2 linked regions of the Homo sapiens genome follow. The protein of the gene in region 1 interacts with the protein of each later gene in a biochemical or structural test. Each region holds a gene or a part of one and is shown in the gene's direction. Other genes may lie near its edges. The genes, in order: AGPS and GNPAT.

Region 1 (3,923 bases):
GGCTCAAATAGAGGGTGGGGTTAGAGTTGTTACATGAGATAAAGTTGGTTGGGTGGGCTAGGGCTTTGCAGGATAGATTTGGATTTTGTCTTGTCAGCAGTGGGATTTCTTTGAAGAATAAAATCAATCAACTTTACATCTTAGCTCATTCTGGCAGCATTGTGCAGGATAGATTAGAAGGGTACATGCATGGAGGAGAGACACTAGGAGATGAAACAGCTCAAGAAGCAAAGTTTGAGGGCTTTGAGCATGGCAGCAGCAATGGAGATAGAGAACGGATGATAGATTTTCAGAAAATCAGTTTGCTAACTGGATGTGGAAGGCTAAATAAAAGGAGGAGTTGAAGACAACACCTAGACTGATTTGATTGGGTAGATTAAATAACATAGAAGAATGGGTGGTGGTCTTGGGAAAAAGATATGATAATGGGTTGTAGTTATATTGTGAAATTTACTTTGGGATTTAAGTTTATAGAATTTAAATACCCTCAAAACAATTCCTAAAATCATGAGAGTGATCGTTCAGTAATAAATACTAAAGGCAAAGATAGGCAGGCTTTTGTCATGTCTAAAAGTAAGCTGAGATTTTAATTTAGGGAAGCATGGTTATAGTTACATAGAAACTTAACTAAAGTCAGGTTCGTAACATATTAAGAGTTTTAAAATTACATTCTTCTAAGTTAGTCATAATTGTTTATTTCTTTAAGTAAATTACTTTCAAAATACTATACTACTGACAAAAGTTTAAGATAAATATGTTCTATAAGTAATGAAATACTTAAATCAAGTGAAAAACCACTTGTGTGTTTTGGCCTGCATTTAAAGATCTAGGTCTTAAAGAGAGCCATGCATCTAATTAATAAGACTGTGTTATTCGTTTATATGTTATTGTTGTTGTAAACAATGTTAGACCTAGGCATTTGTAAAATTAGTTATGATTTGGCCATACTTATTTATAATTGGAGTCCATAACAATTTAAAGTGAAGGTTTAAAGAAAGTCTTCCTGTCATCCCTCTTCCATGTTCTCATTACTATACCTGAAAACATACTTACTTGCTCCCCTCTAGCTTGCTCCTGTCTGTGGTATTATAGGTTCTACCTTCTCTAGTCTTTACTGTGTCTCCCCTCTCTCTGCCCTTTACTTAGCCACCAAAGTGATCCTTTTGAAATACAGATCTGATCATGCTTTTTGGCTGTCTATATAACCTTTTTTATTTCTCAATTTTAATTGAAGCCTTTACATTAATATATCCTGCCATGGCTTCATGATCAAGCAAAAGAGGAAATAATGCTTAGCACAACAAAAGGTGCCCCAGACCCTGCACTAACCGTATGGCTGATTGGTCGGTGTTTATACCACATTGGTTGTTAACAAAGCACATGCCATATTATTAGTTGTTAATATTTTTAATATAATCTCTACTTCAGGTACAACTCTTAATACATTATATTGACATTATCTAATTTTAGTATATTGAAATGATATATATCATTGTGTATATTGAAATAATCCAAAGATGTCCTCTATAAACCAAAGTTTCTCGAATTTAGGGTATGTTTCTTAGTCATTTTTCTATCACCTGCACTTATCACGTAATAGGCATTTATATGTTGATTCAATTAATCATCAAATTGGCAAGGGGGTGAACAAATCCTAGATGGCATAGTGCTGATTACATTGTCAATAGCACACTTTATAAAATTCTATTCATGACTGTTCGTCAGAGTGGTATCCCCACTTTACAAATGACTCAAAGACTCATTATTTTGACTACGGTCCACAAATCATACGTGGTAGAGCTAGGGATGAACCCAGATTTGTCTGACTACAAAGCCCAGGAGTTTTTGCACTGTCTGTAACCACTGCTTTAAAATATAGATAATTAATAAATCCTGTTAAATGACACGATTAACATTGAAATAACAGAAAATTCACTGATCAAACTGTCCAGCTAGTAAATTTGGAAGTGAGTTTAATATTTTAAAAAACCACAATAGCAGCTGGGTGCAGTGCCTCACGCCTGTAATCCCAGCACTTTGGGAGGCCAAGGCAGGCGGATCACCTGAAGTCAGGAGTTTGAGACTAGCCTGGCCAACATGGTGAAACCCTGTCTCTACTAAAAAAAAAAAAAAATACAAAAATTAGCTGGGCATGTTGGCGAGCACCTGTAGTCCCAGCTACTCGGGAGGCTGAGGCAGGAGAATTGCTTGAACCGGGGAGGCAGAGGTTGCTGTGAGCCGAGATCACACCACTACTCTCCAGCCTGGGTGACACAGTGAGACTCTGTCTCAAAAAAAAAAAAAAAAAAAAACAAACCCACAATAGCTAGAATATATTTAAAATGTAATTATATTGTTAGGCAACATATTTAAGAAAAAGTAAAAGATAATATTATCTAGTTGATACTAATGCTTGACCCACCTAAAAGTCAGTATCACTTTTACAATAATTTATTCTTCAAAGCTATCATGTCACCTTAGTATCACAGATGTATGTGAGTAATTCTACTAGCATTAATGGAAATTGTGCATATAAATCTCGATGAGTTAAGTGAACATTTACCCTTAAGGATTATTTCATATCAGAGTAGTATCATATGGAGTCCGCATGCATTGTATAAAGATAAGTGAATCTTTTGTATAAAGAATAGATAATTTCAACTTCTGCCAAGAACACAACATGCACATTCAATATATAAATGTTTATATATGTATTTCTAATTGTTGTTAATATAGGATGAGTTCCATTTGGGACCAGAAATGAATGTTTTGATGATACGTTATTTCTATCTTTATAGATATTAGAAATTGTCTCTTAAAGCGCTAGTTATACTAGGAAGCATCTCTGATAGTTTAAAATAAAAGAAAAAAATCCCCAAGCGTATCTCTTACTTGTGATCCAGGAGCTCAAAAAGATTGCTAGGTTGATCTCTATCTAACCTGCAGTTCAGTTTGTTTCTTTGTTGTTGTTTTTTAATGCCTCAGGTATAGCATAGATATCTAATTCTTAGCCTCTGGTTAAGACTTCTATTACTTGGTCTTTTATGTAACACAGTTTCCTATTATAATCAGCAAAAATGTAGTAAGTAGTATTACAGATTGAGATTCTTATAAAAAATGGATAGAAAAAAACTACCAGTGATAGTTTTAGAAACAGCTAGTTTGCTCTTTGCACCTATTTTAAAAGAAGGAAAGGAAGGGCCTACACTTTAAAAACAAACAAAATCCCCAAACCTTAAAGGCTTTTTTAAAAAAGAAAACTTTTTATTTGGAGATAATTTTGACTTACTTAAGACTGAAATTCTTTATAAAAATTTTGTATAAATGGTATGACACCTTTTTCTGAATTGGGCTGCTAACACTGAGGCCAGATGCATGACTCTTAAATGTAGCAATCATAGGAGTTGAGTCGTTACTACTTTCTGAAAAGTGAGAAAACAGTAAAAGGTTTTCACTCAATTAAGCTTAATCTGCAGGCAAAGATGTTAATTTAACAGACTTTGAGACTCCATTTATGTTATTTTGGCAATTTTAACTCTCCGGGTGTGATTAAGGAAGCAATTGCTAGTTTTATGCCAAGAATTCTGGATGAATTAACAATTAATTAAGAAACAACCTTAAACTTGGCATTAACTCCATATTTGGATAGTTCTGAATAGTTTCTATATAATTAAAAAAAAAAGTAAAACCAGCCACCATGGGTGTTCTTAATGAAATAAAAATTAATGAAGTAATTTTATTATGTGTAAACCATACCGTTGAAAGAAAACCTAAACTATGTGTAGTATTAATTACATATAGTGATTTGACTTAAAAAATCAAATTGATAATGGGTTTTGTAAATAAAAAGTTGTTTGTGACATTTGAAAGAAGATAAAAGTAGCAAATATTAATATAACTATATATCGTAATATAAATATTTA
Region 2 (3,923 bases), on another chromosome or scaffold:
TCCCTGTTACATGAATAAAATATGCCTTTGAAATACATTTTGTGATAGTAAGGACTTCCTGGTACTCCCTTAAAGTTTAAAGGGCAATGTTGTAATTTTACATGATGCATTTATTTCCAGAGGATGTCTACAGTTGCTTTCGCTTCCTACGTGATGTTTTTGCAGATGAGTTCATCTTCCTTCCAGGAAACACACTAAAGGTAAAGTGCTTACAACAAAGAGCAAGTATGTTTGCAGTGTGAGTTCTAGAAATGTTAGGGGTGAATTCACAGATGTGTCTCAGGCAGTGTGCCATCCCTTTCTTCAAGGCAAAGTGGGGCAGACTTCAAGAGAAACTGGGGCGCTCACAGTTCAGCAGACTCTAGTTTGATTCTTGATCAAGTTTAATTAATAACTTAGGGATTATATGGTGAGAGGAGAGTCATTCTTTGAACTATCAGTGTGGCCATTACAACTAAACTAACTTTATTTTAGTAAACGTTTAAAAATCAGCACACAGCCGGGCGCAGTGGCTCATGCCTGTAATCCCAGCACTTTGGGAGGCCGAGGCAGGCGGATCACGAGGTCAAGAGATCGAGACCATCCTGGCCAACATGGTGAAACCCCGTCTGTACTAAAAATACAAAAATTAGCTGGGCGTGGTGGCGCATGCCTGTAGTCCCAGCTACTCAGGAGGCTGAGGCTGAGGCAGGAGAATCACTTGAACCCGGGAGGTGGAGGTTGCTGTGAGCCAAGATTGTGCCACTGCACTCCAGCCTGGTGACAAGAGGAAGACTCCATCTCAAAAAAAAAGAAACCAAACACAACAAAATCAGCACACATTTTCCTGTTAGCAAGTTGTTAGAATGAGTCACCCAGGCAAGTGCCTTTTACTTTGAGAGTAGTGAGTGCTGGTCCTGCCTGGTCTAGACAGCTGAGGGGTCATCAGGCTCGCAGAGCTGGACTGCTGCTGGGTTGAAGTGGGAAGTGACAGTAGATGAGAGGCATGTTAGGTGTTTGTGTGCTTTAAGGATAAGAGGTTTGATTCTGTAGGGAGTGGAACAGGAGTGTTGGAAACTTTTTTTTTTTTTTTTTTTTTGAGGTGGAGTCTGGCTCTGTCGCTCAGGCTAGAGTGCAGTGGCGCAATCTCAGCTCACTGCAAGCTCTGCCTCCCGGGTTCACTCCATTCTCCTGCCTCAGCCTCCCAAGTAGCAGGGACTACAGGCGCCCACCACTACGCCCGGCTAATTTTTTATATTTTTAGTAGAGACGGGGTTTCACTGTGTTAGCCAGGATGGTCTCGATCTCCTGACTTCATGATCCGCCCGCCTCAGCCTCTCAAAGTGCTGGGATTACAGGCGTGAGCCACCGCGCCCAGCCAGAAATTTTTTAACCATAGCATAATTCTAAGTATTTTTAGGACTTGCTGTATGTATTTCCTATTTAAATTAAGGAGTGGTTCTGCAAAGTAAAAGAAAATCCATCACCCAGGTTGTGATTTGTAAGGCTCAGAAATGTTGTGTTTGAAAACATTTTGAATGTAGAGCAGATGCTTCTCTGGCTACTATCTCACAACCAGAATTGTTCTGGAGGTTGGGGAAATAGCTGGTATTCTGTTGTCTGAGGGCATGTGGCTGCATATATTCAGATAGGCAGTGTATCCATTAACCTAGATGAGGGGGTACATGTATTCAGATGGGCACTATACCCATTAACCTAGATGAACATTATGGCTTCCTCTTCCCTTCTAGGACTTTGAAGAAGGCTGTTACCTGCTTTGTAAAAGTGAAGCCATACAAGTGACTACGAAAGACATCCTAGTTACAGAGAAAGGAAATACTGTGTTAGAATTTTTAGTAGGACTCTTTAAACCTTTTGTGGAAAGCTATCAGGTATGTAAATTTGGCAAGTTCTCCTTCATGCCCCCCATATCAAATATAATAAGACATTCTCACCCTGTGCTTATTTCCAGTCTGAAGGGCAGGTATCTTCCCCAGGCAAATGGAAGAAGGAGAGAGAGTGACTAATACGATCAGTGATTTCACCTCACCAGTGAGACCTTGCTCCCCGCATTCAGGAGGAAGCTTGGTTCATTACAGACCCAAGAGGACAACAGCTTAGTGATGCCATGGTCACAGTATTCACAGGACCACAGTTACACCCACGCATCATCTGTCATACTGTGTCTCATGTCTTAATGAGGCCTTCATGTCAGTCAATATGTAACCTCGAGGTTTGATATATATCAGGCACTCAGTAAAGGCAAGACTTGAGTGATACATAAAGTCAGTTACAGATTACCAGATGTTTATGTTGGAAAGAAAAAGTTCAAGTGCAAGTTCTGAAAGCGTTTGTCAGAGCTCTTGGGAGTAGTTAGAGAGATGGGATGGTATGTTGCCCAGCAGGAATTGTGGCAGGACTCAACGGGAGAGAAAGAGTCTGAAACATAAACTGTAGGAAGGACTTCCACATGCTTGAGAGAAGAGGATGCTGTGACTCGGCTCTGTTCATATAATACATGCACTGGCTCTGGGCACCTGGACCCACTTCCTGGTGCTTGTGGTCCGTGAAATAACTCATTCAGCCTCCTTGCACAAAGTCTAGCACTTACTGAGCATTTGATAAATGCTAGTTCTACCCTTAATCACTGTTCTACAGTAGAAATCATCAAGTATTTTAGGGCATGGTACTTTCTTAGGTGTATTTAGAGAAAAAAAGCAAAGTTATTAAAATCTGACCCCTCTCTTCCCAAGTAGCATAAGAGATACGAAGCTGATGGTAATTAACTTGTACCCCTTGAAGTGAGAAATTATACTTTAATAAATGTCATTATTATTTTAAATCTTTTTCTAATTGTAAAATGTAAACTCAAAGGAGATGCCCTAAAAATTCTTTGGTTTTTCTGGGCTCATTCCTTGGAGGGTCTTTATGCTGCTCTCTTGTGATATATCCTTCTCTTAAGAGGGGCAATGTAAAGTTATTTACTATTCTGTTGAACTTGGCTATCCTTTTTCTCTTTCTGTTCCCCTCATCCTTCCTCTTAAAATCAGATAATTTGCAAGTACCTTTTGAGTGAAGAAGAGGACCACTTCAGTGAGGAACAGTACTTGGCTGCAGTCAGAAAATTCACAAGTCAGCTTCTCGATCAAGGTCAGTCACTGCTCTGTGGGTGCTGATTTCTTTTAGTTGAGAATAGAAACTGGTCAACTAACTCTTCCTCACCCCCAATTTTAGGTACCTCTCAATGTTATGATGTATTATCTTCTGATGTGCAGAAAAACGCCTTAGCAGCCTGTGTGAGGCTCGGAGTAGTGGAGAAGAAGAAGATGTAAGTACTGTACAAGATCCCATGAGTGCTCAAGGAACAAGGAAATGAATGACATTTGAGCTCAAAATCCAGAGAGACATAGAAATGGATGATCTAGGAAATGCTATATTCTACTTTCCTTATCCATCCTCTAATTAGTTAAGTCAGTGTGAGTTATCCTGAAAATTGTATGTGGTTATGAATAGAAATGCAACTGAAGCAAAGAAAGGAAGAAATAACTTTAGGCCAATATTTTTGCTTTGACTTAATGTTGAAATTTATAATTACAAGAAAGATTTTCGGGAGTGTAGTGGGCATATGAGTGTAGACACACATAAATACACACATAATACATATATAGATACATACCTGTATATGTATATATAAACATATAGATGTATGTTCTTCTAAGTGGTTGAATTTAACAGTGATAAAGCTTAATAGTAAACTCTGGCAGTCATGTCTCTTATGTGGTCAGAAGAATGAAGCAAGAAGCCAGGAGGTGGGACAGGAGCCTGAGGCCTTTCGACTACTTAGGCCCAGCCTTGAGGAAGGCAATTGAAAAGTAGTCTTACAATAGCTACGTCAGGAACAAAATATAAAAGTTGTCTTTTCCCCAGAGTTTATGTAATAATAA

What was found.
Region 2: the proteins of AGPS (region 1) and GNPAT form a complex in vitro, tested with the Homo sapiens proteins (one study listed by BioGRID).

The regions. Positions count from the first base shown.
Region 1 is NC_000002.12:177,493,627-177,497,549, forward strand, and holds part of AGPS (alkyldihydroxyacetonephosphate synthase, peroxisomal precursor), read left to right. Parts: intron 1-3,923. UniProt on the Homo sapiens protein: Catalyzes the exchange of the acyl chain in acyl-dihydroxyacetonephosphate (acyl-DHAP) for a long chain fatty alcohol, yielding the first ether linked intermediate, i.e. alkyl-dihydroxyacetonephosphate (alkyl-DHAP), in the pathway of ether lipid biosynthesis.
Region 2 is NC_000001.11:231,272,192-231,276,114, forward strand, and holds part of GNPAT (dihydroxyacetone phosphate acyltransferase), read left to right. Parts: intron 1-120; coding exon 121-200; intron 201-1,730; coding exon 1,731-1,871; intron 1,872-3,029; coding exon 3,030-3,129; intron 3,130-3,213; coding exon 3,214-3,307; intron 3,308-3,923. UniProt on the Homo sapiens protein: Dihydroxyacetonephosphate acyltransferase catalyzing the first step in the biosynthesis of plasmalogens, a subset of phospholipids that differ from other glycerolipids by having an alkyl chain attached through a vinyl ether linkage at the sn-1 position of the glycerol backbone, and which unique physical properties have an impact on various aspects of cell signaling and membrane biology.